Linked DNA regions of Homo sapiens: regions 2 and 3 are each linked to region 1. Evidence: fine-mapped expression QTL. A gene starts in region 1. Each other region holds a variant in brackets. All regions are shown on one strand. Distances are between the middles of the regions. Region 1 holds the start of TMEM179 (transmembrane protein 179). Region 2 has its middle 74 kb from the start of C14orf180. Region 3 holds the start of C14orf180 (chromosome 14 open reading frame 180).

Evidence for each region. PIP is the estimated chance that this variant, and not a neighbour inherited with it, causes the effect.
Region 2: its variant is the best candidate, but not a certain one, in a credible set for the expression of TMEM179 in cerebellar hemisphere (GTEx, PIP 0.85).
Region 3: its variant is the best candidate, but not a certain one, in a credible set for the expression of TMEM179 in stomach (GTEx, PIP 0.68).

What each region holds. Positions count from the first base shown.
Region 1 is chr14:104,599,622-104,610,163 of GRCh38, reverse strand. It overlaps TMEM179 (transmembrane protein 179), which reads left to right and starts at 5,392. Exons shown (of 4, transcript NM_001286389.2): 1 at 5,392-5,727. The coding sequence starts at 5,423.
Region 2 is chr14:104,500,813-104,511,354 of GRCh38, reverse strand. No RefSeq gene overlaps it. Among named protein-coding and RNA genes, the nearest start is that of C14orf180, 74 kb to the left of the region's middle. The variant T/G (reference allele first, on the strand shown) is at 5,100.
Region 3 is chr14:104,569,703-104,580,244 of GRCh38, reverse strand. It overlaps C14orf180 (chromosome 14 open reading frame 180), which reads right to left and starts at 481. Exons shown (of 5, transcript NM_001008404.3): 1 at 242-481. RefSeq lists a silencer at 8,607-8,807. The variant C/T (reference allele first, on the strand shown) is at 5,594.

The DNA of each region.
Region 1 (10,542 bases):
ATGACCTTCTTTTAACTTGATTACCTCTGTAAAGACCCCATCTCCAAATAAGACCACATTCTAACCTGCTGAGGGTCTGGACTTCAACATGTCTTTGCTGCGGTCACAGTCAACCCATAACACCTGTTGGAAGATGATTCACAGGTTTGCTTTGCAAGGAGAATGCATGGCCTCTAAGGAGGGGCTACTCCATCTCTCCTGCTGGTGACCAACGTCAAAGAATGAGTTCTGCTGAGAGAGGGAGGCCAGCGTGCCCCGATGGCTCTGCAGGATCTGAAGACCACGTACCAACAGGCGGCAGGGATATGTGTGCGCCTGGACCACAGTGTGCTGGATTGGGGCAGGGGAGTAGAACATAAATGTTGGGTAAGAAAGAATTTATCCAAAAGGTAGAGGTGTCCTGGAATACAAAGGTTTAACACCAGGCAAGAGCCCTGGGAGGCAGGGTTAACTTGTTCCTAGGATGGTGGAGCAGACAGAATAATGCCCCAAAGATGTCCACATCCCAATTCCTGCAACCCATGAGTATGTTACCTTTTATGGAAAAAGAGACTCCGTGCATGTGATTAAGGTTGAGGACCTCAGGTTGCGGGGCATCCTGGATTTTCCAGATGGGTCTAATGTCAACATAGAGAGTCTTCTAGCTGCAGAGACCAGAGGAGTGGAGCATGAGAAGGGCTGGACTGGTGTTACTGGCTTTGAAGATGGAGCAAGGAGGCCAGTAGCCAAGGAACGCAGAACCCTCTAGAAACTGAAAAGGCGAGGAAACAGATTCTCCCCTGAAGACTCCAGAGAGAACAAAGCCCTGCAGATGCCTTGATTTTAGACTTCTGACCCTGGGATGTTCTCACCTCCCAGAACTGTCTGACAATCCATTTGTGCCGTTGTGGCATTTTGTTGCAGCAGTGACAGAAAACTCGTCTAAGTGGCTCTAAGAAGTTTGGAAAGTGGATACTCAACCCTGTAAAATAGAACAGCCAGGACAGATGGTGGGAGAGGGGGCAAGGACTCAGGGACAGGGGCGTGCTCGAGTGTCCGTGCTACAAAGGCTGCAGCACCCACCGAGGTTGCATTCCTGGGTGGAGAAAGGGTGGCTGCAGAAGAGTCTCCATTTACCAGAGCAAGAAAGTTGCACTGGGGAGGGGGCAGAATCACTGAGAAGCTCAGCGGGATGATGGTTGGAGCTGCTGTCACAGGACTGGGTGCCCTGAGAACAATGCGGCTGGTGGGATCCCCAGATAAGACAGACCAGGTGGTGCCAGCTAATCGTCGGGAGCAAGGTGAGCTCAGGTCCTAACGAGCAGCAAAGTCAAAGAAGGAGCCAGCGTGTCCTGACCAACAGAAAGTGGAGGAGATGGACAACAGGACTGGGCATCCCTGGAGGAAAGGCAGAGGCATCTCTCACTCTGGTGCACTTGACACCATCATAGGGCATGAAGGGGAACCATCCCAAGGGCAGCCTGACAGGAGACGTCATGACACCCGGCCCAGTTTCTGGACCTAAGCCAGGTTTTAGATCCAGAACAAAATTAATTTGCAAATTATCATATTTTTATAGAGTATCTTGAGATTTCTAGGTATAGAATCATATTATCCTCCAATAAAGATAGTTTTGCCTCTTTGTTTCCATAGTTATACTGCTTCTTTTATCTTCTTGTCTTGGTTCATTAGGTAGAATTGCCCCCAAAATGGTCAATAATAGTTGCAACAGTGAGCATTCCTGTGTTGTTCCTGATTTGAACGGGTGCGGATTTATAATGTGGTTTAAGGTAGTCTTGACCACATTTAGGTAGTTTTATTTTACATAGAGGTTTTTTTTTTTTTTATCAGGAGTGGATATTCAATGATAGGAAGTGCATTTTGATATTCCTTGATACGAAAAGGTGAGTTTGCCTCCTTTATTTGTTGATGTAGCATATCATTGATAGATTTCCTAAAGCAAAGCTATTCTCTCATTTGTAGACTAAAGTCTACCCATTCATGTTTTCTTACTTTCTTAATACATTGGGTTGTGTTCAGTGTGCCAATATTTTATTTGAAAGTGTTCTGCATCCATATTTGTATATGTAATTTCCTATTTCTTTCTTTCTCCCGCAATTTTGGTAAGATTTTGGTATTAATGTAATGTTGGCTTTTAAAAGTGAATTTTGGAGTTTTCCACATTTTCCGTAGATTGGAATTTCTTCAATAAAGAGATGGTTAATTTTATGTGTCAACTTGGCTGGGCCAAGGTGCCAGGTATGTGGTCAAACATTATTCTGGATGTTTCTGTGGGGGTATTTTTGGACAAGGTTAACATTTAAATGGTGAACTTTGAGTAAAGCAGATCCTCCATAATGTGGATGAGTGTCTTAGTCGGTTTTCTGTTGCTAAAACTGAATACTAGAGACTGGGTAATCTATAAAGGAAAGACGTTTATTTCTCATGGTGCTCGAGGCTGGGAAGTCCAAGGTTGAGGTGCTGCATCTGGTGAGGGCCTTCTTGCTGGTGGAAACTCCCTGCAGAGTCCCAAGGTGGTGCAGGGCATCCATGGTGGGGAGGCTGAGTGTGCCGGCTCATCTCTCTTCCTCTTGTTATAAAGCCATCAGTCCCAGTCCTGGGGCAACCCATTAATCCATGAGACCACTAATCCATGAAAAGAATTCATCTATTCATAAGGACAGGACCAAATCACCTACTAAAGGCCCCACTGTCACATTGGGGATTAAGTTTCTACATGAATTTCAGAAGAGACAAACATTCAAACTATAGCAGTGACCTCATCCAACCAGTTGAAGGCCTGAATAGAACCAAAGACTGACCCCACCTCCCAATCCCCCTCCCCCCACCAGTAAGAGGGAGTTCTGCAGCCACGACATTGAACCACAACATTGACTTTTCCTGGGTCTCCAGCCTGCTGGCCCACCCTGCAGATTCGAGACTTACCAGTCTCCAAAATCACATGAGCCAGTTCTTTAAAATAAATCTCTCTCTTTCTCTCTTTCTCCATCTTATTGGTTCTGTTTCTCTGGAGAACCCTGACTAATACAAACAAGATAAGTCTTTGATTTTTGAAGGTAAGTGGAACTAATCACAGACATGCCAGAGTCTCGCACCTTTGACCTTTGAAAATGGCAGATATTTAATCATCTTTCCAGCCTAGTCTGCGGTTTCCAGTGCTGGCGGTTCCCTGTCAGTTGTCATGGTCTCCTTCATGTTGGCCAGAGTCTGGAAGTGTAACACCCCCAGATGTGTTCAAATTGGTCCAACTGCTGGATAATGAGTGGATGGAACTTCCACTCTTGCCCAAGTTAGGGGAGGGGGTGAATTTCCTGAGTGAGCTCCCTTTGGGGAGAATTGGGGATACTCCAAGAGTGGTAAAAACCCTGAGTGGATTCTCCAAGAGAAGAGTGGCCGTTGCTGACCTCGTGGCTGGCCTTCAAGGCCCGACTTTAAAGTGACTGCAAAATGAAATGCAATCCACAGAAGAGAAGAAGTTGCAAATGGTGGCAAGCGTAAGAAGATATGCTCAGCCTCATGATGCCAAAGCAAGTCCAAGTTCACACAGCAATGAGCGCATTCTGTGGAAACTGGCAGGATTTGCCTACAACTGCTGTTTCTCAGCCAGCGAGGGGAGGGGTCTACAACCCAGATGTGAGGGTAAATTTGAACAACATTTTAATTTTTTTATTTTTATTTTTATTTTTTTTGAGACCAAGTCTCGCTCTGTCGCCCAAGCTGGAGTGTAGTGGCGTGATCTCGGCTCACTGCAACCTCTGCCTCCCAGGTTCAAGCGATTCTCATGTCTCGCCCTCCCGAGTAGCTGGGACTACAGGCACCCGCCACCACACCCGGCTGATTTTTTTGTATTTTTAGTAGAGACGGGGTTTCACCATGTTAGCCAGGATGGTCTCGATCTCCTGACCTCGTGATCCACCCGCCTCGCCCTCCCAAAGTGCTGAGATTACAGGCGTGAGCCACCGCGCCCGGCTGAACAACATTTTTAAAGCCGGTTTGGCAATTTCTGTCAACATTTTAAATGTGCATACCCCATGACCCAGCAATTCCTCTTCTAAGAATTTCTCTTATAAAAATGCCTGTGCAAGAACGCAAACATATGTGTACAAGAATGTTCACATGACAGCATTTGAGACAGCAAAAACTGGAGACACAAAACATCCACCTTAAGAGGAATAGTTATGCAGATTGTGGAATCATCATTATAATGGAGTCTTATGCAGTTATTAAAAAGAACAAAATAGGTGTATGTGTAGGCAGGGAATAATCTCCTTGACATTTTGTTGAATAAAAGAATCAGCCTTCAGAAAACTATGTATGGTATGAAGCATTTTTGTTAATTCTGTGTGTGTGCTTATGTGCTTAGCAAAATGTCTAGAAAAATAGATGCCAGGCTATTGAAGTGGTCACCCCTGGTAGTGTGATGGGGTAGGGGAGGGGGATGAGGAGAAGGCTTTCTATTTTATTGTATACATATCTCTATTACTTGACTTAAGAAATGAGCATATATTACTTAGTCAATAAAACAAAAATATTTTTTAATGCTTGCAACAAAAATGCTGATGGAATTTTAAACCAGGAGGAGCAATGTTAAGGCTTCCTCACTCTGGGAATTGGACTAAAGGTGACTTAGTCTTAAAGGCAACTAGAAAAGGCATTAATTCTATTAATTAATGCCTCAGCGATTTCCATCTCAGCAAAGATGTCTTAATGAGGCGCTCGGGACACCCATTATTTATCTTACAAATGCAGCTCCAGGGTCCTGCCCATGTCAGGCAGTGTAACACACGTCCCCGCGGAGGGCTGGCGCTGCAGAAGCTCCCGGTCCACCCCCTCCTGCCCACACCTGGCCTCACCCTCCCCATCTCTTCGAGGATGACCTCTGTCCCAGTCCCTTGGACCCCGACTCCTCCACGATCTGGCCCCTCCCCTCATACATTGCATTTCGGGACCCCCGCAAAGGAATCACTTCAGCCTGGACTGCAAACCGCACTCCTACACCTCACTATGAGCACCTTGGGGGTGTCCTCCAACACCCCCCGCCCCGCCCTCTCTCTCCTGGTCTCCTTTCGTTCGAGCTGATGAGGAACTGACGACCCAGAGTCGGCCTGTGTGAGGCCCGTACAGGTGGCTCCCGAAGTCTTTAGCGGCACAGGGTCGGTCCCTCCAGGCCGACCTGGTAAAATTCCCGCATCTCCCGCAGGCCGCCCTTCTCTGGCCCCTGGACCCCGGGCTCCTGGCCCGCGCGCACCAGGAGCTGTCCGCGGTGCTGACCGCAGGCGCTTCCCGCGCTCGGCCGATGCGCACGCGTCCCGGGAGGGGCGCGCGGGACCTGCCGGCGCCGCCACTGCGCAGCCTCCCGCGGCCTCCCCGCCCGGCGCAGCCTCCCGCGGCCTTCCCGCCGCCGCTCTCGCCCGGGCCGGCCATGGCGCTCAACAATTTCCTTTTCGCTCAGTGCGCCTGCTACTTCTTGGCCTTCCTGTTCAGCTTCGTGGTGGTGGTCCCGCTGTCCGAGAACGGCCACGACTTCCGCGGCCGCTGCCTGCTCTTCACCGAGGGCATGTGGCTGAGCGCCAACCTCACGGTGCAGGAGCGCGAGCGCTTCACGGTGCAGGAGTGGGGCCCGCCGGCCGCCTGCCGCTTCAGCCTGCTCGCCAGCCTCCTGTCTCTGCTGCTGGCCGCCGCGCACGCCTGGCGCACGCTCTTCTTCCTCTGCAAGGGACACGAGGGGTAAGTGGGGGCCGCTCCCGGCGCGGCGCCCCTTCCATGCCCCCAGCGCCCCCAGACCCACCTCCCCGGGGAGGCGCGCGAGTCCCTCCGTCTCTCAGGCAGCTCCGAGGCCCGCAAATGTCAACAATCCGCCCTCACCCCCTCCACTCAGACCGCCCTTTGTCTACACACACATCCAGGGACCATGACGACCACCGGTCCTGCGTACAAGGCCAGTGCCTCCCCTCCCCAGCTGCGCATCACCTCCCGCTTCCGGGCATCTGCTCCCTTGGGTTGCAGATGTTGCACTGTCATCACCCAGCAGGCCTGGACCTTCCTGGGCGGGCTCAGCCGGGCCACACTCGCCAGGACCGGCGACAACTCCCAGCCCGGTCTAGGGCTTGCACTGAGCTCTCCAGGTCCCAGTGACAAGGCGAACTGGGGAGCCCCACCCGGCACCATCGCCCCGGGAAAGGGACGGCAGATGGCTGTCTGGAGGGGAGCCACCCAGGCCCACCTCGAGCTCAGGCCTTGGATGGGGAGCTGGAGAGAGACTGCAGGGCGAGGGCTGTGCCTTGTGGGCTCAGCGCCTTCCTCCTCCTGGCCTGCATTTTCCTCTTTCTCTTTCCTGCTCCGGCTAGATACTGGAGCCCATACAACCTGGTTCACCTGGGGTGCGGTGACACCCTTAGCCAGTGGCACCCTGGGGGCCCTCTGGGGGCCCACCCACTCCCTCTGCAGGTGCTCTCTGTGAACCCTCCCACTCCCTCTGTGAGCCCACCCACTCCCTCTGTGAACCCACCCTCTCCCTCTGTGGGTGCCCTCTGTGAGCCCATCTACCACCTCTGTGAATCCACCCACCCCCTCTGTGAACCCACCCACCCCCTCTGTGAGCCCACCCACCCCCTCTGTGAGCCCACCCACTCCCTCTGTGAACCCACCCACTCCCTCTGTGGGTGCCCTCTGTGGGCCCTCCCACTCCCCTGGCTGAGGCCTGCTGTGCCCAGGAGCAGCCCGAGATCCTGTAGAGGTTCCGGGAGAGCACTCATGAAACCCAGGCTCCTCCCAAACTCTGCCCTCACCCCCATCCTTTGTTGTAGGTTTTCACTTCCTGCACGCAGGTGGGAGATGAGAAGGGCTCAGAGGGGTGTGGGCGGCAGGAGTGGGGAAGCCCTCCTGTTGCCCCCGCTGTGAGCCCACCGCTTGGTTTTGGCTGAGAGAGGGGCCAGAGAGGGGAAGAAGAGGGGCTTCAGGGAGAAGGGAGGGAGCCAGGGCTATGCTGAGTGGGGCTGCAAACTCTGGAGGAGGAATGAGAATCCCAGCGCCTGTGGGTAGGAGCGCCCTGGGGCTGCTGCAGCACAGTTGCACCAACTGGACTGAAACCCACTTGTCCCACCACCCTCTGCCGCTGTCCTCACAGGGCGCCTTTGCTCTGCTCTGTCCTCCCTCTTTTTACAGGGACACCAGTCACTGGATTCAGGGCCCACTCTAAACTCAGGGAGATATCCTGAGATCCAGAGCTTAATTACACCTGCAAAGATGCTATTTCCAAACAAAGTCACAGTCACGGGTACCAGGGGTGGGACTTGGGCATATCTTTCGGGGGACACCATTCAACCCACGACACTAAGGTTCTGGATGGGGGTCAGTAGAAAGCTGGCTGTCAGCCTGGGAGGACCCAGGTACTGTGGGGCCATGGGCCCAAATTGTGTGGCTGGAGCCCTGCTCAAGGTGGGGTCAGGCCGGGCGCAGGGTGGTGTCCTGCCCATTTGCAGCCGTCCTCCTTCCCTCAGCCCACTCCAGGGCTGGTGTCCCAAGAAGAGGCTTGAGACGTCATCTGCACCCATGTTGCCAAACCCAAGAGTTGCCCAGTCCATGCTGTGCATGCAGGGCAGGCAGGTGGAAGCCTCCCTGAATGAGACAGGTGTGAAGAGGGAGTGGGACAGCCAGCGAGTAGGGTCAGCCTCCCAACGCTTGAGGTCCCTTTAGTCTGGGAAGCTGAGGGTGGAGGGTGCAGGCCAGGTGGGGCCACAGTTGGTTCATCGCTCACGCACTTCTTCACCTCCTGGGTGTCCCTCAGGGTGCCTGTGGTCCAGCTGGGGCTGACAGAGGGTGGCTCTCTAGATAGGACCCAGCTATGTGGTCAGAGTGATGGGAGATTTTATAGGGGGTTCCACCAGAAGCTGGGGGACAGGGAGAGGGGAGAAAAGAGCCCCAGAGCTTGCAAGACAGGAGTCCAGGTCGCACAGGGTATGGTCTATTTCGCACACACTGGGCGGCAGGCCCAGGGATGCCGTAACAGCAGCTCTGCCTCTTGCCATCTCACGGAAGGTGACTGTCTGTCAGCCGTGGCAAACTGCCAGCACCATCTCCTTCCAAAGGCAGAAAACAGATTCCTGGGGAGTCTGCAGGCCTTCCCAGCACTCTTTGTGGTGTTCCATCCTCCCAAGGGGTGGAGCCGGCTGGGATGCAGGCCAGCTGTGTGGCCTCTGCTGCAGCCCTGCTGACCGGCCCATATGGGATTTAGGAAGCCTTAGACGGCCTGGTATGCTCAGGCCTGTGGGGGTTAGGGTGAGGGTTAGGGTTGTCGAGGGGGGCTACATTGTGGAGGCTCACCATGGCCTTGACCCCACTGGAGGTCAGGTCCGGGCAGCTCCTGCTGTCAGGAAGGGGCCTGTGGCGGAGCATTTCAGGTTCAGCTCCTTTGCTTCAGTTCAGGGGTTCACCAATCCTCCCACCACTGACCTCCGCCCAGCCTGCTCTTTTCCAGGGACATCTGGTGCCTGTGTCCTTCTTGACCATCAGGAATTAGTGGCTCAGTTCACGTGGTCATGTGGCCACCTGTCCCCCACCTCATGCACTGCACAGTCCATTGGCAGACGGCTTGTGGGGTGACATCTGTCAAACGTGTCAGCACTCCATTGAGTTCTGGTTGTAGGCGAAGGTTAACGCTCTCAAGAGCCATCTCAGGCCATGGGTCCCCCCCCAGGGGACCCCACCCTAGGGGACCCACAGCTGGGTGAAGCCAAGGCAGACATGCACCTTATTCATCTCTGTGTCCTTAGGGCTGAGCACAGGGGATGGTGCGTAGGAGTCCCCAGATAATGTTTGTTGAATGACTGACAGAAAGATGCCTGGGTCCTGAGGCCTGCTGCCTTGTGGTCACTCACCTGGCCCCGATACCTGTGCAGACTCAGTTATCTGGCCAACAGGTCCACCCTTCAGACTTGCCATGTCAGGAAGTTCTGGACCCCTGGGAAGATGGGGTCTGCAGGGTCCAGCGACAGAGCAGCCAATTCCAACTCAATTGTTGGTCCAGCTGCATAGACTAGGTGAGCAAGTGCCAGGTAGGTAAAGGGGACTCAGGACCAGCCACGGAGCTGAGACGGGCCTTTACAGGGAGCTCATGTGGTGGACAAGGGCTCTCAGGGCCATCGACGGCCACTGGACGTCCAGCCCAGGGAGGAGCCCACTGACCCCATCAGACTCTGGCTGCTAGAGGTCTGGGCCTGTTTAGGACAGCACATGCTCTAACCCTCTAAAGGGGACTCCACCTCCAGGGGCCACCCGGCTGCCCTCCTGCCAGTGTGAGGGCAAGGCCTGTGTGAGGTCTGTTTGAGGGGCACATGGCACGTCCAGAGCTTGTGGAGCAGAGGCCATGTCTCAGGTGCCAGCTTCCTCTTCCTATGGGGGTGTCTTTCATGCAGAGTCTGGGCCCTGAGAGCTCGTGCCCAGAAGTGTGAAAATTAGTCTGGGGGTAGCTTTTTGCAGAGGAGTGTCATCTTGATGCTCCATTATTGGCTGCTGAGTGAATGAGTGAATGAATGAATGAATGAATGAATGAGTAAATGAATGAATGAATGAATGAATGAATGGATGAATGAATGGAATGGCACCTGTGCTTCAGAGAGGCTTGCCATTTCGGGGCAGAAGGGTTTGCTGAGGCAGCCGTGGGCCTGGGGCAGCTGTGCTGAGGGAGGATTGAGCACGTGGGCTGGCAGCAGTTTGTGGTTGGCGGGCCGGAGGGATGCTGCGTTAAACTCATCTGCCTGCCCGTGCCGGCGCTGAGCCTTCACATTGCTGGGCTTTCCAGGACAGCGGTCACCATGGAGATGGCACATCCTGGCAGGGCACCCTGAGCGGCAGTGAAGAGAGACAGGGTTAACCCTGCATGTGCCGGGCTCCTGTTCCTGACCACTGTCCTGGCCTGGCCTTGGTGAGGGAGGGGCTGGGTGGCCCTGTGACCTCTGGGGAGCTGGATCCGGGGATGCTCTGGACACATCCAATTCTTCAACGACCTGGACAGCCTGGGCAGGATCCCTGGAAACCGACCAGAAAGGAATGAGAGGAACAGACCGAGGCTGTCAGCTGGCAGCGGCCCCAGCCTGGGGTCCCTTCCCTATCTCATGGGGAACTCCTCGATCTGGTCATGGGAGAAGACTCCAAAATCGGGCCATTTCATAGGGGTGAGGCTGGATGTTTGAAGTCTCCAGATAATTGGCTTTTCTGTCTGTTGGAGGTTGTGTTGTGGCCCATGCTCAGTGGTGGGAAGGGGACAGTGGGTCGCCTGGGCCCAGAGCCTCTGCCGTATCTCAGGTGCACTGGGCCAGGTATTTGCAGGCACCAGGGTCTTTCAGGGTCTGAAAGACCCTGCTCTTCAGAGTGCGTCTCCTTCTCCATTCTCTCTCTGGAGGCTGAAAGGTGTGGACCATGGCAGTGGCCCCTTCCTTGCCTCTGGCTGTGGAGCTGACCCTGGCCGTGCCTCGCCACCACCTTCTCCTTGGCTGGGGCGGAGCAGCTGGTCCAAGACTGCAGAGGTGGGGCGGGCTTACTGCG
Region 2 (10,542 bases), 99 kb after region 1:
GGCTGCGTGTGTGGTAGGGATGTGCAGGTCCCCGGGTGGCGAGGGGGGTTCTGAGTTCCCGGGAGGACATGGACAGGGAAGGAGATGCAGGAGAGACACACACAGGGCCTGTGGGGATTCCAGGGCCAGAGCTGTCAAGCTCGGCGGCTGGAGCTGAAGATGGGGCGGGCTGTGCGGCGCTGGTGACGGGCACCGTGGCCTGGCTGGGGTGCTCAGGTACCAGCTGCTTCTCCTGGCTGGGTCTGGCTCGGTCTCAGCACGTGGCCAAGCCGGCAGCACAAGCACAGGCCTTGGTCTTGGCTGGGAGCAGGGCTGGCCCTGCCAGGCACCAGATCAGAGCCAGGAGCGCGCTGGCAAGCCCCGCGGGACATATTGTGCATCAGCTACCACGGCAGCCCTTCCCAGACGGGCCTCTGCTCGCCTGGGGAGATGGTGGCAGAATGCGGAGGTGCCCAGCCCTGGCCACTGCCCCACCCCTGCACTCTGACCTGCCAGTCCCAGAAATGTCCTCTCAGAGCCCTGGAGTCAGCGGGCGCTTTCTGGGGAGCTTTGCCTTCTCCCCTCTCCCCATCTGTCCCTGACTATTGGAGTCAGTGCTTGTGTTTGAGCCCCCGAATCAAATAGCTTTGCAATTTGTCAAATTATGCAGAAGAGACAGAGGAGAGGAAAGGGAAGTAGTTTGGTTCTATTATGTGGAAATTAGCTTTGAAACAGAGGCCGTTTGCCTGTTAGAGCAATTTCTCTCCATTTATTTCTAGAGAAAATTGCCTGTGTGGCTCACATCCTCATCTGGTGGGGCTGGCTGTCTCCCAGGCCACTAGGCATGGGGGCTGGAGGCCTGCACCAGCCCTGAGGGCGTCTCCATCCTGGCCAGGGAATGGAAGGGAGACCAGGAGGCTTCATGCTGCTGCCCCTGGCCCTGGGGCAGGAGGGGAGGGGGCAGGCTCCGGCTCACTGCCCAGCCCCCATCTACCTCTGAGACATGTCTTGGTGGCTCTTGGAAGGCCAGGTCCCCAGCTCCCTAGAGGATGGGCCTGGCCAAGCCTCCTGGATGGGGGTGGGAGGCCCTGCCTGAGCCTGACCTTGGCGGGAGAGTGCTGCAGGTGATGCTGGGATGGGTGGGAGGGGACTCCAGGAGGAGGGACCAGCTGAAGGCACCACAAGGCCCTGTGTTTGGGAAAGGGCAGAAGTCAGGCAAGACCTAGAAGTGGCAATCCCAACTGCATTTTCTATCCTTCCAGGTGGAGCTGCCACCTGTCTGCAGATCCCAGCCCGGCCAGCCAGCTCTACTGCAGGGCGCACTGGGGTGTCTCGGGGAGACTGGCAGAGTGATGGCTGCAGGCTGCTGCCCTTCACGGAGCCTCCTGTGGCCACACTCGTGGGGTGCCCGTATCTGCTGCCTGGGGGTCCCTGCACGAGCCCTCTGGGAGGCATGCGGGCTCCAGGGTTCCAGTGGGGAGCTTGTAGTGTGGTGAGGGGGGACCTGCTAGGGCCATGCACCACTGGAGGGCAGCAGCCCCCCACCCCTGCAACCCTGTCTGCTGCTCCGGAGCTCCGAGCAAAGTGTACACCTGGGCATCCTGAAGGAGACTCAAAGCCAGGACGCTCGGGTGGGGTCTGAGTGCAACATCACACTTGGCCGTGGCTGAGGGGAGAGGGCAGCCCTTTTGTGCTATTATCATATTGTTTTGGGGAAATTGCTTTTTATGAAATAAATTTTACATAAAGTGAAATGTGCAGATCTTAAGGGTACAACCTGATGAGTTTTGACAAATACACACACATAACCAACACCCAACCAAGTTGTTTTGAGCTTTATCTGTGTAGTTTATCCATTTTATCTTTGAAGGGTATTCCATTTTATAAATATAAAATCTATTTATGCTTTTTCCTGCCAGTGTACCTTTGGGTAGTTTCCAGTTTTTGACTATTATAAATACAGTTGCTATAAACATTCTTGTGCAAGTATTTTTGGGGTACAAATGTTTCTATTTCCTTTGGATAAATAGCTAGGAGGGCCATAGGACAGGTGGAGGTTTAATTATGTAAGAGATTGCCAAGCAGTTTTCTAAGTGGCAGCACCGTTTTGTACCCTCACCTGCAGTATAGGCGAGTTCCGGCTTCTGCATATCCACACTGACATTTAGTATTGTCAACCCGATGGGCAAAAAACTACTTCCTGGAGATTTTCGTATCTATTTCCTGATGATTAATGATGTTACACATCTTTTCATGTGCTTATCCAGCATTTATGTGTCTTCTTTTATGAAGCATCTTTTAATTGGATTTTTTATTATTGATTTGTAAGAACTCTTTATATATTTTGGATAAGTGGATTGTCTTTTTATTGTTGATTTGTAAGAACTCTCAATATATTCTGGATATAAGATGTATGTGTGTGTGAGTGTGTATATATATGTGTATATGTGTGTGCATATATATATACATATATATTAATAGAGTTAGAGAAAATATATGTGTGTGTATATATACACATATATATACACACACATATATTTTTTTCCCTAATTTTATGAAATACCTTTTTGTTTTTTGACAATGTCTTGATGACCTGAAATTTTAAATGTTGATTAATTTCTGCTTGTTGTTTTTTCTTTATTGGCCAGAGCCTTTTGTGTCCTCTCTAAAGAGTCTTTGTTTACCTCAATGTTGCAGATTTTCTCCTGTGTGTTCTAGGTATTTCCTGGTCCATATTTTAGATTTAGATCTGTGGTTTATCTTAAATTAATTTTCATGTATGGTGTGAGGAAGGGGTTGGGGTTTATTTCCCCCATAAATGTATCCAGTTGCTCCAACATCATTTGTCAAAGAGACTTTCTTTCTTTATTGAATTTCCTTGCAGCCTTTGCTAAAAATCGATGGGAAATGTATTTATGGGTCTAGTTCTTGTCTCTACATTTTCTTCCATTATCTAAGTGTCTATTTCTTCGCCAGTATCTCACTGCCCTGATTACTGGGCTTTGCAGCATCCTGAAATCAGATCGTATTAGTCCAACGGTGCTCTTTATCCAGGATCATGTTTCTTTTCCAGGTCTTTGCACTTGCAAATGCATTTTAGAATCAATCAATCAATTTCCGTCAAAAAGCTCATTGGAATTATTATGAAGATCACATTCGGTCTACTGATCATTTTGGGGTGGCTGAACAACATCCTAGCCATAGAGAGTCTGCCCATCCATGAACTTGGTATACTTCTCCATTCATTCAGCTCTTCTTTAATTTCTCTCAGCAATACTGTTGCAGTTTAGGGGATAGATCTGGACCTGGTGCTGTCAGAGTTAGGGAATGATATGGGCAGAGCATTTGACTGTAATCTGGGAAGCAAGGACTGGTGCCCACCTGCAGGCCTGTGGGGACTCTGGGCAGCAAGGCAGCCTCTCAGCTTCTGCCCAGGCAGCAGCCACAGCTCACTGTGATGCCAGGTATGCACACTTCCAGGGGGCCCATTGTCCTTCCACCCACCTTCTAGTCCACACTCAGGAACGTTCTAAGCCATCCCTGTCGGGTGGGGCAGGAGAGGGGAGAATCCAGACCTCACAGGAGCCCCAAACCCTGATATCTCCAAAGTGCCCTTTTGCCAGCCCTGGTCTCTGCTTTTGTGTCCTGGGTTTGGCTACATGTTGACAAAGATGCTCACTCGGAAAGTTGAGCAAGACCAGCTCTCATCTGTTGTTATGGTTACGAGGCAGGAAAAACAATTTCCTGTGAGTATCTTCTGATCACTCCTGTCGGATGCTGGAGCAGATTAGGCCAGGCACCATGGTGATGGCTTCTCTGGTTCTGTGGGGGACCATGTGACATTCATTTTGACCTCACACATGGGGTTGCAGTCTGCCGGCTCAGTCAGGGGAGATAGACGGATCTCATTAAGAACCATCAGAGGATCACTTTGCTGGTTTTATTGCAGTTGCAAAATTGCCTTTACCTCACTCTCTCCCAAATGCCAGATTACAAACATCACAAGAGATCAAGAAGCCTGGGTGGGCCCAGGAACGCACTGAGTGCACGCCAGTGGGCAGTGACCAATCACCAAACCCAAGGGAGTCCACATGGCGAGCTGTCTCCTTGCTACATGGGGCCTGCCTACTCACAGCTGGGAGCCCCTCCAGCACCAGGAGGCCCAGGTCTCCCCGAAAAGAGAACACACTCTCTGCAGGGGCAACTTCCACCTCCCCACCGACCCAGGCCCCCCAGTTGCAGAGCTGCAGAATGGCAGAATTGGGCCCCCCAGTTACAGAGCTCCCCAGAGCTGCAGAACGGCAGAGGGAGGCAGCAGGGAGACAGACCCATAAGTCTGGTCTTGGAGAAAGGGGTGGCTGCAGCCAGGTGGAGCAGCAGGCTGGGCCATTTCCTGGTCACAGAATCTTCTATCCCAGCCCCATGGCAACCTGGGGGCAATCTCCCCCTCCGCTCTCTCCTGAGGGAGAATCTCCCCCTCTGCTTGTTCTCCAGGCAGGGCCTGGGCTGCCCACGGTGGAGGAGAGGTTCACCCTCAGCCAGCCAAGTCTCTGCCCTTCTCTTCCAGATCCAAGCGCCCAGTGTGGCTTGCAGTCCTTACCTGTCTTCTCCTCTTGCTTTGGATGAAGCTTCAGGGTCCTGCCAGTGAGGAAATGGCCAAACACTGAGAAGGTGACCCCGGCCAGCTGACACCCCACGGTGGCTGCTCTGCGATGGGCAGCTGCTCCAAACCTGGGCCTGGGGCAGGGGGCAGGAGGAAGGGGGTCTGCAATGTGGTGGTTGCCTTGCTGGAAGCTTCTAGGACAAGAGGTCTCCTTAATGGCAGACAAGTGGGGAGAGTGTCTGGAGGTGCCTGGCGCCAAGATGTGGGGTGAGGTCGCCAGGGAGGGGTGCAGGGGAGGGGCTGCACACTGCTCCTTGGGTGGGACAGAGCAGGGACAGGGAACGAGGAGGCTGAACTTGGGGGCCAGGGAGGCCAGAGGAGGCTGGGTGGGGTAAGGGTGCAGGCAGGTAGGGAGTGTGTGTCTGAGAGGAGGGCGGCGTTGCTGGGGGAGCCAACATGCCAGGAGGAGCAGGGAGGCAGGAGAGGAGGAGGGGTGGTAGTAGGTGGGAGACCCCAG[T/G]GGGTTTCTATTTAGGAACTCATTTCCTGCTTTGTGATGTCCTCAGGTTTTAAGTTGCCTGACCCTGCAGGTGGAAAGGCTGACAGTGGCAGGTGGGGGTCCCCAAGCTGCCCCCAGAACCAAAGGTCAGGCAAAGGCTGCAGGTGGACCTCAGCTCTGAGGCTCACCTCCCTCTTGGCCCCTCAGGGTGACACCTTCTAGGAGGTCCCAGCGGGGCAGTCATCCCAAATCCAGGCCTGTTGCTTCCTGCCTCCTTCCCCAGCCTCACTCAGGGGCCAGCCAGCCAAGGTCACCTTGGCTATGATAGGTCAGTGTGGTCCCAGGTGGGGCCCTGACACCTTGTCTGAAAGACATGGAGGAGGAGGGGCCCCAGCCCCAGAGACTCAGCTCTCTGCACCCACAGACTCTCCCCAGCCCCCCAGCCCAGCAGGTCAAGGACCCCAGGCGGGGGCTCTCGGCAGCCCCTGCAGTGAGTCTCCCTCCCACTGTCAGTGTGCAGAGGGTCCCACGTGCTCCGGGACCGCGATTACATTTTCACAAAGAAATTGGAGAAACTACAGCAAACACAGCTCAGCTGTGGCGCTGAAGGGATTCCCTTCCTCTTTCTTCTTTTTGTCCTCTGCGAGTTCAGTTACTCCTGCCCTGGTCATGTGCAGCCCCGAGTCTGGCACTGGAGACGGGTTTGCTGTTTTGAGGGCGGAGGACGTGGCCCAGAAATGGTAGTAGAAGGGGAGCTCTTGATGTGGACAGCTCCCCTGCTGGGTGTCCAGCCTGCCCAGTTGCCCTGCCCGGAGGGAGGAACAGAGAGGAAGATGCCAAGGCTGGCTGGAGCAGGCGCCAGGTGTGCCTGCAGCAGCTCTGGGGGTGGGGAGCAACCATGCGGGGGGTGCAGGTGCCGCAGTCACCTTCCAGGTGGCCCAGTGGCTACCCGTCTTCACTATCCCGGGACGTGCCAGGCCTCCTGGCACTTTCCCCGGTGGTGAAGCAGAACTTCTGAGGCAGCCCTCTGCTATGGCTGCCCCTATTGTGGCCGTCAAGCTCAGCCTGGCTGCAGGCGGGGGCCGGCGTCTCCCGGGTCCTATCTCCTGGGTTGTGTTGTGAATCCGCAGACTGAGGGGCTGTGTGGTGTGGGTGGCGTGTGGTTTGCTGAGGAGCCTTGCTTTGGAGGTCTGGCCTTATTAGAAAACGTTACTTTATTATCTCACATTTCCAGAGGCCAGGAATTCAGAACAAGTCTCATGGCTTTAAAATCTAGATGTCAGCAAGGCTGGTTCCCTCTGGAGGCTCAAAGGGAGAATCTCGTCCCTGTCTCTCCAGGCTTCGGGGGCTCCAGGTGGCCCTGGTGTGGCTGCACCCCTCCATCTCTGCCTCTGTCTGCGCGGTCTCCTCCTCTGCGTTGCCAAATCTGCCCCTGCTTCCTCTTAAAAGGATTCCCGTGATTGCATGCAGGGTCCACCCCATCCAAGAGCCACTCCCTAGCTCCAGTCCTTGACTTAATCACACCGGCAGGGGCCATGTGAAGTCACACATTCACAGGCCCCAGCCACCAGGATGTGAATCTTTGAGATGTCAGCCTATCAGCTATTACACTAGGGTGGCGTGACCAACTCATCCAGTCTGCCTGGGGCCTTCCCGGCATTGGCATTCAAAGTCCCATGCCCTGGGAAACCCCTCAGTCCCAAGCAAAGGGATGGGGAGCCGCCCTCCTCTGTGGCAGCCTCACCTTAGCAGCTCATGTCTCCAGGGCACCTGCAGCACCAGGATGAAGCCTGACTCTCAACAGTCAGTCAGGCAACCCTGGGAGGTAATGCGTGCATGGAGAAGCCTGTGCTGTGCCAGCTGCCGGCCACCCCTCCCAGCTTTCTCAGCCCTTCCTGCTGAATGAGTCTCACTCTCTGTGTGGGGGCCCAGGGGGCCGGTGACACCTAGAGGGTGGCAGGACCCAGGCTGGCACGAGGTCTGAGGCACACCCACCTCCAGCTCAGGGCAGGCTGATAACTGCTCCTCCCTCTCCCCAGCAGGTCTAATACCTTGGCCTCAGCAGAGACCTGTGCCTGCAGTTGCTGACATTTAGCCCCTAAATGAATGAGAAGCTGTGTTATGTGTGTTATGCTGTGGCCTGAGGGCTCTGTGGTGTGGGCGGGGTGTGGTTTGCTGAGGAACCTTGCTTTGGAGGGCTGGCATTACTAGACTCCTCTGGTAGGCTGGGATGGCCTGAGAGGAAAGGGGGCTGTACTGGGTTCTGGGCCCAGCACTGTGGCTCGGTTGTTTTCAGGCGGGCTGGTGTGGACAGATCTCCTCTAGGTGCAGCCCGCTGGCCCATGGACCAACTTGGTAGGAAATTGATGCTTATGCAGCAGTGTGCATGTGTGTCGGCATGGGGGTTGTAAACACGGAGTTCAGAGCTGTTACCTGGGTGCCCAGGCTGCAGGAGGACATGGGTGGGCAGTAGCTGAGGGTGGTGCAGGGATAGACAAGTCTTGTATCAGCCTGCTTGCCACCAGCTGCTAAACGGCCATGCCCCACCACTCCCTGGGCTTCCCTTTCTCTGTCTGCAATGTGAAAGGCTAGCACCACGTGGTTTCTAAGCTCCGTCCAACCTAAAGTCTGTGATGCTGCCAACTCACCACAGTTATATTAAAGTGGTAAAGTGGGTTAGATAGAAATGAGTACTTTTATATTATTTAAGATCCATGGGCAGAGTCTCCTACTACAGCTTCCAGACTCACTCTTCTGAGTTAAGCAACTAGAAAACTGGGCAAAAAAGTATGAAACGACTGTTCTCAGACATTGGAGAGTGAGCGCTGTCTTAGTCCATTTTTGTTGCTATAAAGGAATACCTACTGCTCGGTAATTTATAAGAAAAAGAGCTTTATTGCCTCATGGTTCTGCAGGCTGGACAGAAGCATGGTGCCAGCATCTGCTCAACTTCTGGTGAGGACCTCAGGCTGTGCCACCTTCCCCACTCACAGGGGAAGGTGAAGGGAAGCTGGTGTGTGCAGAGACCACATGGCAAGAGAAGAAGCAAGATGGGGGAGGTGCCAGGCCCTTTTCAACAAGCCCCTCTCATGAGAACTAACAGCAAGAGCTCGCTCCTCCCTGAGGGAGGGCATGATCTATGCATGAGGGGTCCACCTCCACCACCCAGCCACCTTCCATTAGGCCCCACCTCCAACCCTGGGAATCCAATTTCAATATGAGGTTGGGGGGAAAACATTCAAACCACAGCAAGTGCAGAACTGAGACACCCATTCAGAGGGAAACAAATAAAGTGACCCCTCTGAGGCCTGGACTTTCTGTGTGGAGACAATGTCCAGGAGGGCTGCTATGCTGAGGACTGGATTATGGAGTAATGGGCTGTGATGGGGAAGGAAGGCCTTAGTCAAGGTGTGGTGGACCTGCTTCCTTGGTACTGATTTGGAGATTCCTTTAGGATGGCTGGACATTTTTTCAGTTCTCCGTCCTTCCTTAAGGCTGACAGCTCTTTGTCTTCTTATGAGAGGAGGGATCCACACAGAGCCTGGTGGTCTCATTGGATTGAGGAGATAGAGATCAGAATTTTGGGAGGCTGAGATGGCTAGAATTTGCTGGCAGAATACCAGAGAAGAGGGAAATAGGCAGAAAAAGAGTGCCAGAATTCTGCATAGGGGTTCCCATAGGTCTGTGCCTGAATGTCAATTGTCCCACGCAAGGCGTGAAACTTCAAGGGCAATGCTGAAGAAATAACAATTATCAGAGAGCTGCAAGGTGAATGGCTTAGAACCATCTAAGTTTCCACCAGCCAGAATGGAGAGAAGTTATTGAAGACATGGGCATTCACTAGAGACTCAGAAGAGTTTTGCTTTAGTAGTGGGGCTTAACTCACCCAAGAGGAAAGGTGACTCTAGACTCACCCTCAAAAGCATCAAACTTCTCTCCAGGTGACTTAACTGCCTGCCAGAATGGAGCCCAACACTCTTTAAAGGCATGTAAGTGAATTCAGAACTCAACAATGTACAGTATTCAACACAATGTCCAGCATCCAATCAAAAATCACTAGACAAACAAGTAGGAAAGTAGGGCCTATCGACAGGAAAAAATTAGTTATTAATAATAGAGATAGGCCCAGAACTGACAGAGGTGATGGAAAAGGCAAACCAGGATGTTAAAACACTTGTTATAAATATGTTCCATATACTCAAGGACTTAAAGGAAAACATGAACAGAGCGAGGAGAGAAATAGGGGACACAGAAATTCCAAGTGGAATTTCTAGAAGTGGCAAATTGTGCCAATCTCTGAAGTGAAAAGTTCACTGGATGGGACAGTACACTGCAGAAAAACCAGTGAATTCACTTTGGTATTTAAAAGCAGGGGTTGGTAAACTGTGGCCTATGGGCCAAATCCAGCTTGTTGCCCATTTTTATAAATAAAGTTTTACTGGAATGCAGCCACACTCACTTGTTTACGTACTGTCTGTATTAGTCCATTTTCATGCTACTAATAAAGACATACCTGAAACTGGGTAATTTATAAAGAAAAAGAGGTTTAATGGACTCACAGTTCCACATGGCTAGGGAGGCCTCACAATAATGGGGGAAGGTGAAGGAGAAGCAAAGTTCTGTCTTACATGGCAGAAGACAAGAGAGAAAGCATGTGCAGGGGAGCTCCCATTTGTAAAACCATCATATCTTGTGAGACTTACTCACTATCATGAGACCAGCACTGGATAGACCTGCCCTCATGGTTCAATGGCCTCCCACCAGGTCCCTTCCACAACATGTGAGAATTATGGGAGCTAACATTTGAGATGTGGGTGGGGACACAGCCAAACCGTATTGCTGTCTATGACGGCTTTCACGTAACAACATCAGAGTTTAGTAGTTGCAACAGATTGCATGGTGCACCAAGGCTGAAATATTTACTAGCCAGCCTATTGCAGAAAAAGTTTGCTGAGCCCTGGTTTAAAGTATTTACCTTGTGATCCCTTTATACTACAAATTGCAGAGCAAGCCCTTTATCAAAGATAATGTACACATTAATTTTTAGCCAGTTAGGTCAGAATTATTCCAGATCAGTAGAACATGAATTCCCAGGAATGGGCATCATAACCTCAGGTTACAGTTTGAGCATGGTGGAAATTGGAAAGAAAATGCTTGCACAAGGGCAGGTCATTCCTACCCTGCTCTCAACTCCCTCCTCCACAGCCCTGCCTCACCCACTCTGTGTTGCCCTGAGTACCAGGGTCTTTGTTCTGCTCACTTTTAGGAGGTCTCTCTCCTTCTCCCACTAGAACATGAGCTCCCCACTGGAGGGAGAACTGTCTGCCTCATCCTTTGCCCCATGGGCAGCAAAGGCTCAGCCTTGGGTCACAGACCAGATGCAGGAATGAGGCCCAGATATGGAAGGACCGGCTGTGAGTTCTGGGTCACGTCCCAGCACACTGGCTGGCTTTGGGAGGGATAA
Region 3 (10,542 bases), 30 kb after region 1:
TCACTCAGGATCATCAGTGTGTGCTCTGCCCAGTCTCTGCCCACACCTGCTGCCCAGCTGGGGCAGGTTCCCCACCTGCACCTGCCTTTGGCAATCTCTCCGCTCTGCCCAGTCTCTGCCCACACCTGCTGCCCAGCTGGGGCAGGTTCCCCACCTGCACCTGCCTTTGGCAATCTCTCCGCTCTGGCATCTTCATACCCAAGCAGGAAGTGAGCCCCCTCTCCCTGGGGCTGGAACTCACCTGGTTCCCTCCTGGCTCCCCGAGGGACAGAAACAGGCTCTTCGGGATCTCCCTGTGGGGCACAGTCCAGTGAGGTCCTGGACCCTCTTGGCCGGCAGCACCCCTCCCAGGCCCTTGAGAGTTGAGCCTCGGGCAGAACTGCAGGGCACACAGGTGAACGGGCCAGGCCCGCCCAGGCCTCCTTCCCGAGGGCTCTGATCTGGAGGCGCCACCGCCCGCTGGCAGGGCCGGGTCTGTTGTGGCCTTCGTCCCGTCTCCAGCCCTCTCTGCTGGATCGCAAAGCTGGGCCAGCTGGCAGCGGCCAGGCTATAATTACCTCTCCCCTTTGGCAGAAATAGCAGTGAACCCGAGGACAGGCCGCTGGCCCCGGAGCAGAAGGGGGTGGCTGTTTCCCAGGCCCCCGGTGGACAACAGACCATGATTTCAGATAAGACCAGAGTTTGCTGCTGTTCCTACCCCTCCCGGCCCAAATGTGCCCCCTCCCAGGTCAATTCCAGAGCTGTGCAGCTCTTGGAAAAACCTATGGATTGGAATTCGGGGCAGAGTGGGAGAGGGAGGGCACTGTGGGGCTGCGGGAGGTGAGGTGATCACAGAGTCCAGCCTCCAATAAGACCCTGACCCAGCATGGGGCCTCCGTGGTGGCGAGAGTGCCCGCCCTGCCCCAGGCCCCTGTGCCCCTGTGAGTCCTGACCTGGGGTTGCCAGAGGGAGAGGCAAAGAATGGGTCCCAAGCTGCCGTTTTGGGGCACACTGGCCGACCCTCGATATTGCCCTGGCAGGAAGGGGCAATGTATGGGTCAGTGAGCGATGGCAGGGGTGAGGGATCAGCCTTTCTCAGGGTCTGTCCTGGGTGGGCGTCCAACTGCCCTGCCTGGCGCTGCTGAGTCTGCCCCTCATTTGTAGGTGAAAGTGCAGCTCAGAGAGTTGAGGCACCCTGTCCAGAGTCACACAGCCCGGAGGTGGTAGCCTGGCTCAGGCTTGGTGGCCCGTCCTCGCCAGCCCCCCCGTCTGCTGGTGCATGTAAAGGCAGGTCTGAAAGAGGCTGGTGAGGGCATCACTGGCGCAGGGCACCACCACATGTGGGCAGACCCCTGCCTGGTTTGTGGGGCTTTGACCTGTTTCAGGGGACTGCTGGAGGAGGTGTGGAGAGACCCGTGTTTCTCCATTAGGAATGGGGGTGCATCTCCCTTGGGTAAAGCTACAGGACCCCTGGGAGCCCAGGGTGTGCCAGGCTGGGGGACAGTGTGCACAGAGGGTGACTGCTCAGGGCCAGCCGTGGGGCTGCATGGACACAGAGTCCTGGAACCCACCGTCAGAGCATGAGCAACGCAGCCACTGGGATGGGGTTCAGCAGACCGGCCCTCCCCTCACTGCCGTCTTCAGTACAGGGCATGGGGGAGCAAACTTTTCTCTTACAGGGCCATATGGCACACAGTGCGCTCTGTGTCTACACAAACGGGGTGGGCCAGATTGGCAGGAGGGCCTTGGCTCGCTGACGCTTGTTCCAGGGAGAGCACTGAGGAAGGCTGGGTGGTCCTGCTGGCAGTCTGGCTTCCTGGGAAGAGTGAGGTCCTGTAGCCAGACAAGACCCTCTCCCGCCTGTGCCCAATCTGGGCGCTTATCCTTGGCTTCCCAGGGCTGGAGCTGCTCCTCCCAGATTTCAGAGGTCAGGCTGCACTGCCCGAGGTCGGGGGGCTCCGGGACAACTCCTTCCTGACCCTTCTCATTGACAGAGGGGAGGGAACGGTCAGCCCACAGACCTTGGGTGCCGCCCCCTCTCTGTGCTCCCTGGAAAGGCGATGCGGGCTGACCCTGTGGACATTCGCTCTGGGTAATTTATTAGTGAGCTGATGGCTCGGCTCAGGGCTCAGGTCCCAGCGGGGTCATATTTCCGGCCGTATCTGATAGGGCTCGGCTGCACCCTCCTCGCCTCCGTCCATTGCGCCTCACTCCAGCCTGGGCTCTGCAGGGCAAGATAAGGCTGGCCCAGGGGAGTGCTGAGCTGCCGGGTCCGCGGAGGGTCCCCAGTGCCTGTGCCAGGCAGTGCCAGGGAAGAGCCCAGTTGTGTCAGGCCTGCCTGCAGCCGGCAGGTGGGCACATGTGCCCACGGGCAGTGGTGCCAATGACGTGGTGCCCAGGTTTGGGCCCAGCTCTGTCACTGTTCAGCCAGGTGACCTCCGCCACACCCTCATCTCTCCCCGGGAGCTGGGAATGATCGGATGCCCCACCCTCCCCAGATCTTTGTGGTGCACCCACCCTGAGCAGTGCCCCGGGAACACAGCAACTAAGGCCAGCTGTCATTCAGCGGGAGGGCGGAGCATGTCCAGTGGCTGGGCACTCCTGAGCGCTGGGAAAGTCCAGCGAGCTGGCTGGGCTGGGCTGTTTCCTTGGGGTGGTCCTGGAAGGTGGCCGGGGTGGAGTAGGGCGGCACGTGGGAGTGGAGGCTGCAGGGGCTGGAGATTGTGGCTACTCTGGTCATGGCCACGTGGTGCTGGCCTAGACTCCCAGCTCTCCCTGGACCATGGTCTGGCTGGAGTGCGGAGAGCCCTGGGCCTCAGCATGGCCTCATACATGGCTCCAGGCAGGGTCGGGGGTGGGGCTGGAGGGTGTGGAGGCCCTAGGCTGACCTGGGCCAGAGAAGAAAGGGCCGGTGGGTGGGGGAGATGGGGGTGGGGTCCACAGCTGGTTGAAGCAGAAGGACCCCAGGCACAAGAGAGGCCAGCGTTGGCCCAGGGGGTGGGAGTTGGCCGTGGCCCTCTTGCGCAGAGGCCTGGAGGCTGGCCCTTCCCCTGTCTGGCATACAGCCCGGGGGGAAATTCGTGCAGGCTGGCCGACTGCAGCACCAGGGCTTGTGGTGGAAATGGGTCCAAAGGTTCTCCAGGCGTCTCCGGGGCTCAGGGCTGCACCCCTGTCAGCTGAGGCTGTCCTGAGCCCAGCTCCCTCTGTGGTAGTGAAAACGCCCAGCTGAGGCTGTCCTGAGCCCAGCTCTCTCTGCTGCAGTGGGAATGCCCAGCTGAGGCTGTCCTGAGCCCAGCTCCCTCTGTGGCAGTGAAAACACCCAGCTGAGGCTGTCCTGAGCCCAGCTCTCTCTGCTGTAGTGGGAACACCCAGCTGAGGCTGTCCTGAGCCCAGCTCCCTCTGTAGCAGGAGGAACGCCGGGCTGAGGCTGTCCTGATCCCAGCTCCCTCTGCCGTAGGGGGAACGCCCAGCTGAGGCTGTCTTGAGCCCAGCTCCCTCTGCTGTCGTGGGAACGCCCAGCTAAGGCCGTCCTGAGCCCAGCTCCCTCTGGGGCAGTGAAAATGCAGCTGAGGCTGTCCTGATCCCAGCTCCCTCTGCTACAGTGGGAATGCATCTTTGTAGCTCTCGTCTCTGCAGTGGGTCGTCAGCTGCTTCATGACCACAGGAAACCCCCTGAGAGGGCTTGGTTGAGGGTCTCCAGCTGGGTGGGGACGGTGGCTGATGGGGTCATGAGAGGCCCCATAAACCATGACCACGGTGAGAAGGCCCTGGAGAGGACTACGGGAGAGGGCAGGCAGGGGTGGCGGTGGTGGGTGAGTCCAGGGCCGGTGGAGGCCGCATGAGCAGGTCTTTGCCACTGGCACACTCAGAGCCAGTGCTAGGTCAGGAGGGACAAGGAGTGAAGTCCTCACAGGACTTGCCACGTGGTGGTCACAGGTGGGCTTGGCCCAGGCACCCTGGGGGTTGGTGGGAGTGAAGCCTGAGGGTGGGGTCCAGGAGAAGAGGAGAGGAAATGAGGGAAATGAGGGAGGAGTGTGGGTTTGGGGTTAGAGGGGCTGACGCATGCTCTGGGTGAGAGCCGGAACCTGGGCTGGGGCTCCACAGGCACAGGCTGCTCTGCACAGGGGCTGGTGGGGGGACTTCCCACCAGGCAGAGCTGTCCATGGGAGGAACAGCCGACAGTAAGGTAGTGAGTTCCCCATCACTGGAGGCAAGCAAAGGAGGATTTTTGCCTTTGGGGACTCTTCAGGGCCCCATAGACCACGGGTGGGGAGGGAGGTGGGAGGACGGGGGAGCAGACTCTGGGCATATGGGGGTGACCTGTGACGCTCTGGCCCCTGTGTCTGCTCACTGGCCCCTGACATACGGCTGCCTGGAGAGATGCTGCTCTTCCGGCTTGCAGATACAGCTAGAGTCCTGCCCCAGGTCACGGCCCGGAGTGGGAGGTCCAGGCCCCTACCATGGAGCCTGCAGCTTGTCATTCTCAGACTGAGGCAGGGCCCTTTGACAGGGCCATGTATGGTCACCCCGTCGCCAAGTCAGAGCCCTTATTAAGAATACAGGACGCATGGGCACTGCCCCCAGCCCTGAGTGTGGTGGGGGCCCTGGGTGATGACCACACTGGTTTCCACGAGTGAGAACCATAGGCTGCTGGGGCCCCCCCAGCTCCCATCAGCTGAGATAATGGGGGCCTCTGGGCCCCGCGGAACACTAACCAAAGCGGCCCCTTTCCTCCTCCTCTATTATTCATGACCTCCAAGAGGCTGTAAAAGTCCTTTTTTCTCTACAGGAGCCATCGATACGATGACAAATTTTATCTATGAAGTTGGTCCCTCCCTGAAAGCCAGTTGGCTGTCGGGGCTGTACATAAGCCATAACCGAGCCGGGGCCCCCCGAGCTGCCTGCCACAGCTGTTTTTCCAGCAGCATCTTAGGGGCTGGCTGGAGGGGCCGGGAGATCCTTCCACCACCCCGCCTGACCTGCTGAAGGTTCTGGGCTCTGAGGCGAGGCCGTGTGGGGGTCTGTCTGGGCTTCAGTGGGGCGACTGCAGGCGTGGGCCCCGGGGGCAGCCGGTCAGCCCAGGTTCCCACTGTGGGCGCCATCCCTGGTCTCCGGGCCTGAGGACCCACCGCAGGGACCTGGCTGCGGCCGGCCGGGGCCGAGCATTCACACGTCACACACAGCCTCATTCTCACACCAGAAGCGTGCATTCTCTGTGGCGCAGGCAAGCCACACATCTGTGGACATGTGCGCCGAACTGTGAGGGCCACGCTGTCCGTGTGCAAAAGTGCTACGTGCTGTAAAATAAAAATAAAACCCTAAGGCCCCAACCGACTGAACAGGCTCCTCTTGGCCAAAGGGACTCCAGAGAAACCGGAACAACTGAGTTCCCAGTCATGATGGGACAGGAGGGCAGACGTGCCTCGCTCTCCCCCTTCCCTGCGGGAGTTCAGGCAGGGCTGACCAGTAGTGACGTTAACCTAGTGATCAGAGGACTGTGACCCTAAGACTCGAATTATAAACAGGACCGAAGGCCGCCAGCCCAGGGTCAAGTCATGCACCCCACACGCCACTGTGACCTGGTGTATCGGTTAAAAGACTTCTTAATCTTCAC[C/T]GAAAACATTCCTTTCTGATGACTGCACATTTATAGACAAAGCTTTACTTCTTTAACTAATTGCAAATGAAATAATCTCTGGCCCCGCTGACGACCTGTCAGCCCCCTGCTTCAAGACACCCTGCCTTTCTGGGCTGAACCGATGTAGAAGCTCCTTGAACTATGACTGCCTGCAATTCCGTCACACTAAGGTGGGTGGGAAGCAGAGCTGGTGTCTGGCTGCCTCAGGACCCCCCACTCAGGGCTCCCTGGGTGTGTGCACTTTTTCCTGGGCCGCGGTCACTCATATTGGCTCAGAAGAAAGCTCCGTGTTCTACGGAGTTGGGTCTTTCCATTAACCATGCTCTCCAAGCGCTAGATGGGCAGAATGCATACTTGTGTGCAACGGCTTAGCTCCTCACAGGGCTTAGCTCCTCTTCCCTCCCCACCGCCTCCTGAGCCCCAGGCCTGGCCTCATTGGCAGATAAGGACAGGGGCTCTGTAGGGGGAAGCTCCTTGCCGGGCTGTGAGGCGGCAGCTTACGGAGTGGGCTCAGATCCAGGGGACTGGGTGCCGCCCTTGGTCATGACTCCCCTGCACACAGCTGCTGGGACATGGGGCACAGGCACAGGACACTGGGAAGAGCTTGGCACCAGAACCGGGGGAGGGAGGGCCCCACCCACACCCTGTCCTGGGCCTGCCACCTTGGGCAGTCAGTGCCTGGCCGAGAGCTACTACCTCCTGCCCCAGGGGAATCCTCTCCTTGCAGGGCCGTGGCAGGTTCTGAGGGGCTACTGTGTGCCTCCTTGTGAAAGCGGCAAGGTTGGGCTGGCCGGGCAGGCACACAGTTCTGGTTCACGCGGGTGCCCACCTGGCAGTGGCTGAGTGGCCCAGAGCCTGGGTGCCCAAAGTTCCCTCAGCCCAGGTGTGCCCGTCACTGGTGCTGCCCTCCCTGTTGCCGCCTGGAGCCCTCCGGCCCACTGGGGAGGGCAGCTTCTCCTGATCTTTCCACCGTGTCAGGAGCAGCTGGCCTGAAAGGGCAGAAGTCAGTGTCCAGGGCCCACAGAAACTATGTGCTGGGCAGGAGACTCTCCTGATCTTTTGAGAGCTGTGGGTACGGGCTCTGAGCTGGCAGTGATATCAGGGGACCCAGAACCCCGCTGTGGGTAGAGTAAGGGCTCCCGGAGACCTGGAGGCAAGCCCGCCCTGCAGTGACCCTGGGACCCTCAGCCTCTCGTGCCTAAGGGAAGGGGCTGCCTGTACTCTGCAGTTGGCAGAGCCTGCCCATTGGTTCCTTGACCTAATGATTATGAGCCATTTTGGCAGGAAAAAAACCCAAACGAACAAGTGGAAGCTTCTAAGACCCTGGCCAAGAGAGTCATTCCACACATCCTGAGCATCTGCAGAAATTAGGACCATCCCCAAAGACTCAAAAGATACAGGGATGGTCAGTCCCACTGTCCCCACTGTTCCCACTCTGTTCACCCATATGGTCCACAAAAACCAGCAGCATCATGGCCGATGGTGATGGATGAACCCAACCCAACGCAGAGTCAGCCCACATGGAAAATGCGCCGCCGGATGCGATACCTCGACTGAACCGAGTCACCACATCCTCTGGCCCTGGGTGTGTGCGGTGTGTCTAGCAAGTGTGTCCTTCTCAACCACCTCAGTAGAGAGGGGCCCACCCAGCTGCCTGTGAGAGACAGCAGTGCTCCAGCCACTGGCACTTTCTTGCTACTCTTGCAATCCAGTGCTCTGGGACACTCCTGGTCTGCGGAAAATGATGCTGATCAGCTACATTCGTGACGTCATGCTTAGTACGTCACATGGCAGGTGGTCCAGACCTCCAGGAACCCATGCAACAATGGTAGCCATGATTAATGGACAATGGAGGAAAAACTCTAGCCCCGGTCCCCAGGCATTTGGCTGGGGAAGTCAGTGCAACATAACATGACTGGCTGTGGCACTGGTGACCCCTCGGGTGGCCCTGAGGGCAGGGATGAGCTGTGAGCACCGCCTTGGGTGTCACTGTGGCTGAGGGAAGGATGGATGCAGGCTCCTGGGCCATGGCAGCTGGCCTGGATGACCAGGTAGGAGCCTGTGGGAAGCATAGGCTCGAGGACCAGGAGGTATGGGGGGAGGGCTGTGGGTGGGTGTGCAGGGTGGGCACACAGCTTGTGGCTCTCTGGTCCTGTGCCTGCTGGAGAGCATTGAGGGACAGGCTGGCTGGGGGAGGGGCTGCTGCAAGACACCCTGGGCAGCAGCCAAGGCCCTGTCTTGGGACACAGAGGGAAGGGATGGGTGAGACTCCTCTGCGGGGCAGTGCCTGCCTCCCCCTTGCCCCGTTCTGGGGCACATGCACCAGCAGCTCTGAGTGGAGGAAGCTGGGCAGGGCCAAGGAGGCTTGGTGGGGCCCACTCAGCCCAGGGCTTCGGGGACTCAGGAGCGGCCCCTCCCTCGTTCCCAGGGCCTGACCTTGCTCAGAGCCCGCAGGAGGCCAGCCGGGGTGGCAGGAGGGCTCCCAGAGGTGGGGCAGCCAGGCAGGGACCTGCTGACCGTGTCCTGTGGCCGGGGGTTGGGATCTTGGGCCTGGACTCCAGGGGCCGCTGCATGGGCCAACAGAGCCTTTCCCTGCCCTTTCCAGAGCCCGAGGGGAGAAGCCTTGTTCCTGAAACTGCCTTTTCCTTGCCACATCCTGTTTCCATTTCTTACGAACGACAAAATCGATTGGATGTGCCAGAAGTGCCATTGCTTGCGATTTAATGCCACCTTCCCTGGGGCTCTCGGGTCTTTCTGCAATCCCACGATGAAGCCAGCCACAAGAAGTTCAGAGAAGGTCACTAAAAGAGGGCCCGAGAAAAACCCTCTGAGGAGCTGGGCCTGAGTAGCCTCTGGCGGCAGCAGTGATGGGCTCACGACGGGGCCTCTCTACCCAGCACTGGGTGGGCACGAGGGGCCAGGCTGGGGTGCCAGGCAGGGGGCATAGGACAGTGGGCACTGGAAAGTCCGGCCAGGCCCATCCCACCACTGCACCGGGGCTGCTGCAGCCTCTGCTGGGGAGGGGCCTGAAGCCAGGGCTGCAGGAGAGGAGTGTGGGGATAAGGAAAAAAAAAAAAAAACCGAGAGAGGGAGGGCTGGGGAGGGCTGGGGAGGGAGGCCAGGGTCAGACTGAGGAGTGGGAGGTGGAGCTTAGCTCCGAGAGGAGCCACCAACCCCGTCCACAGCTTTCCGGTCTCGGATGAGAGCGTGAGGTCTTTGTACAGTCAGAAGCAGGGGGCTACACGCAGCTCAAGTGTGCCACAGAAATTCCGCTGGACCGACGCCTGTCTGTGTTTCATATGCACGCAGTCACGTGCACAACCAGGCACACCGAGTCTCACACGTGTGCACACACACACCTTCTCTCTCTGTCTCACGTCCCCCACGGGGCCCCAGCAAGCTCTGACCCCAAGAGGCTTTGTGTGGCCCCAGGCTTCAGCAGAGGTGGGCAGATGCACACGTGAGCCCCACTCTCCCAGTTCCCCGGCACGCGAGGTGCAAGCAGCCATGGTGTCTCCTCGCTCATAAGGGGAGGACCGCGATGTATGCACGTCCGGGGCCCCCAGAGGCTGAGTGTGGCCAAGTGCTGCCACTGCCTTTGTCACCAGTGCCCAGCGCCTGCCCGTCACTTTGACAAGGCCCAGCCTGTAGAACCCACTGGGGTAAACGCAGGGAGAACGCACTGTTACAAAGCCACTCTGCGACTCCTCCGGGCCTGTGGGGAGAGGGGAGTCTGCAAATAGCCACTTAGGCCAAGAATTGCTCCAGACCCCTGCAGGAGTGCCCCTCATGCTACAGATATTGAACGAGGTATCTGAGTACGCAGGGAGGTTTCTGGGCCCCACATGTGAGCCCTGCGTACACACCCCATAGCTGTGTCATGCCCAGGCAGGTGTGCACACGCGCCTGGCCCACGGGTACCTGTTCTCCTAGCATCTAGGGTACTGTGAGGTTACTCAAGTCTCCCCCTTACCCTCCCACCTCCTTTGCTCTTCTGTCTGGGGGAGAAGGCGTGTGAGTAAGTGGCCGGCGTCAGGCGGGAGCAGCAGGGGCATGTGTGTGCTGCGTGTGTGCTGCGTGTGTGCTGCATGTGTGCCGTGTGTGTGTCATGTGTAAGCTGCAGTGCCTTGCCTGGCACCACACAGGGAAGCCAGGCTCTGGCCTCCAATTTACAAGGCAGTTTGTTGGGACCCCTGAATGTTGGCCATGTACAGTTGTCCAGGTTGCACAATAAGGAACTAATTTAGGTTTACTGGAGGAGGGGTCAGATGTGCCGTGGGGGCGCCTCGATGTGGAGCACCCAGGAGAGATGTTGGAGATCAAAGGGCACAAGCAGGCTCTTGTAGGAGGAACTGTGTCCGACCCTGCTCACCATGTCCGTCGTCTGGCCTCACCTGCCCTGGCTCTGTCCCTCACTTGTGCTCCCAGCCCCCCGCAGCTGTCCCCATTCCCACGTATGGTGCTGCTGCATCCTCGGCATCTCTTCTTCCCACTGGAGTTGGAGCAGACCCACCGTGAGCCGGCACATGTGCCCACCCTGGGGCCTGGAAAACCGTGGAGGGCGGCACCCTCGCCAGCAGGGTTTGCACAGTCGCCTGGGCTTCCCCAGGAGCCCACATGGAGGTCATTCCCGAGACCGCCAGCTCCCTGCTGGGAATCACGTTTGCTTGTGAGGGATGTGTGTGTCCCGGTGGGAGAGCCATCAGGGAGCTGGGGATTAATAACCTGCACCCACTTGCCAGGTGGGAGGCCAGGAGCCCTCTGGGGTCCTGAGTGCTTCATGTTTGGGGCATGCTGCCCATGCCAGCCACAGGGATGCTGCCTTGAGACGGTCGGCGACTTTGTCATGGTGTGTGGTCTGCGGGTGCATGAACACACCCACTCCATAGCAGCCCGAGGAGCTGACGGAGGCTAATTAAGTTCTAGGC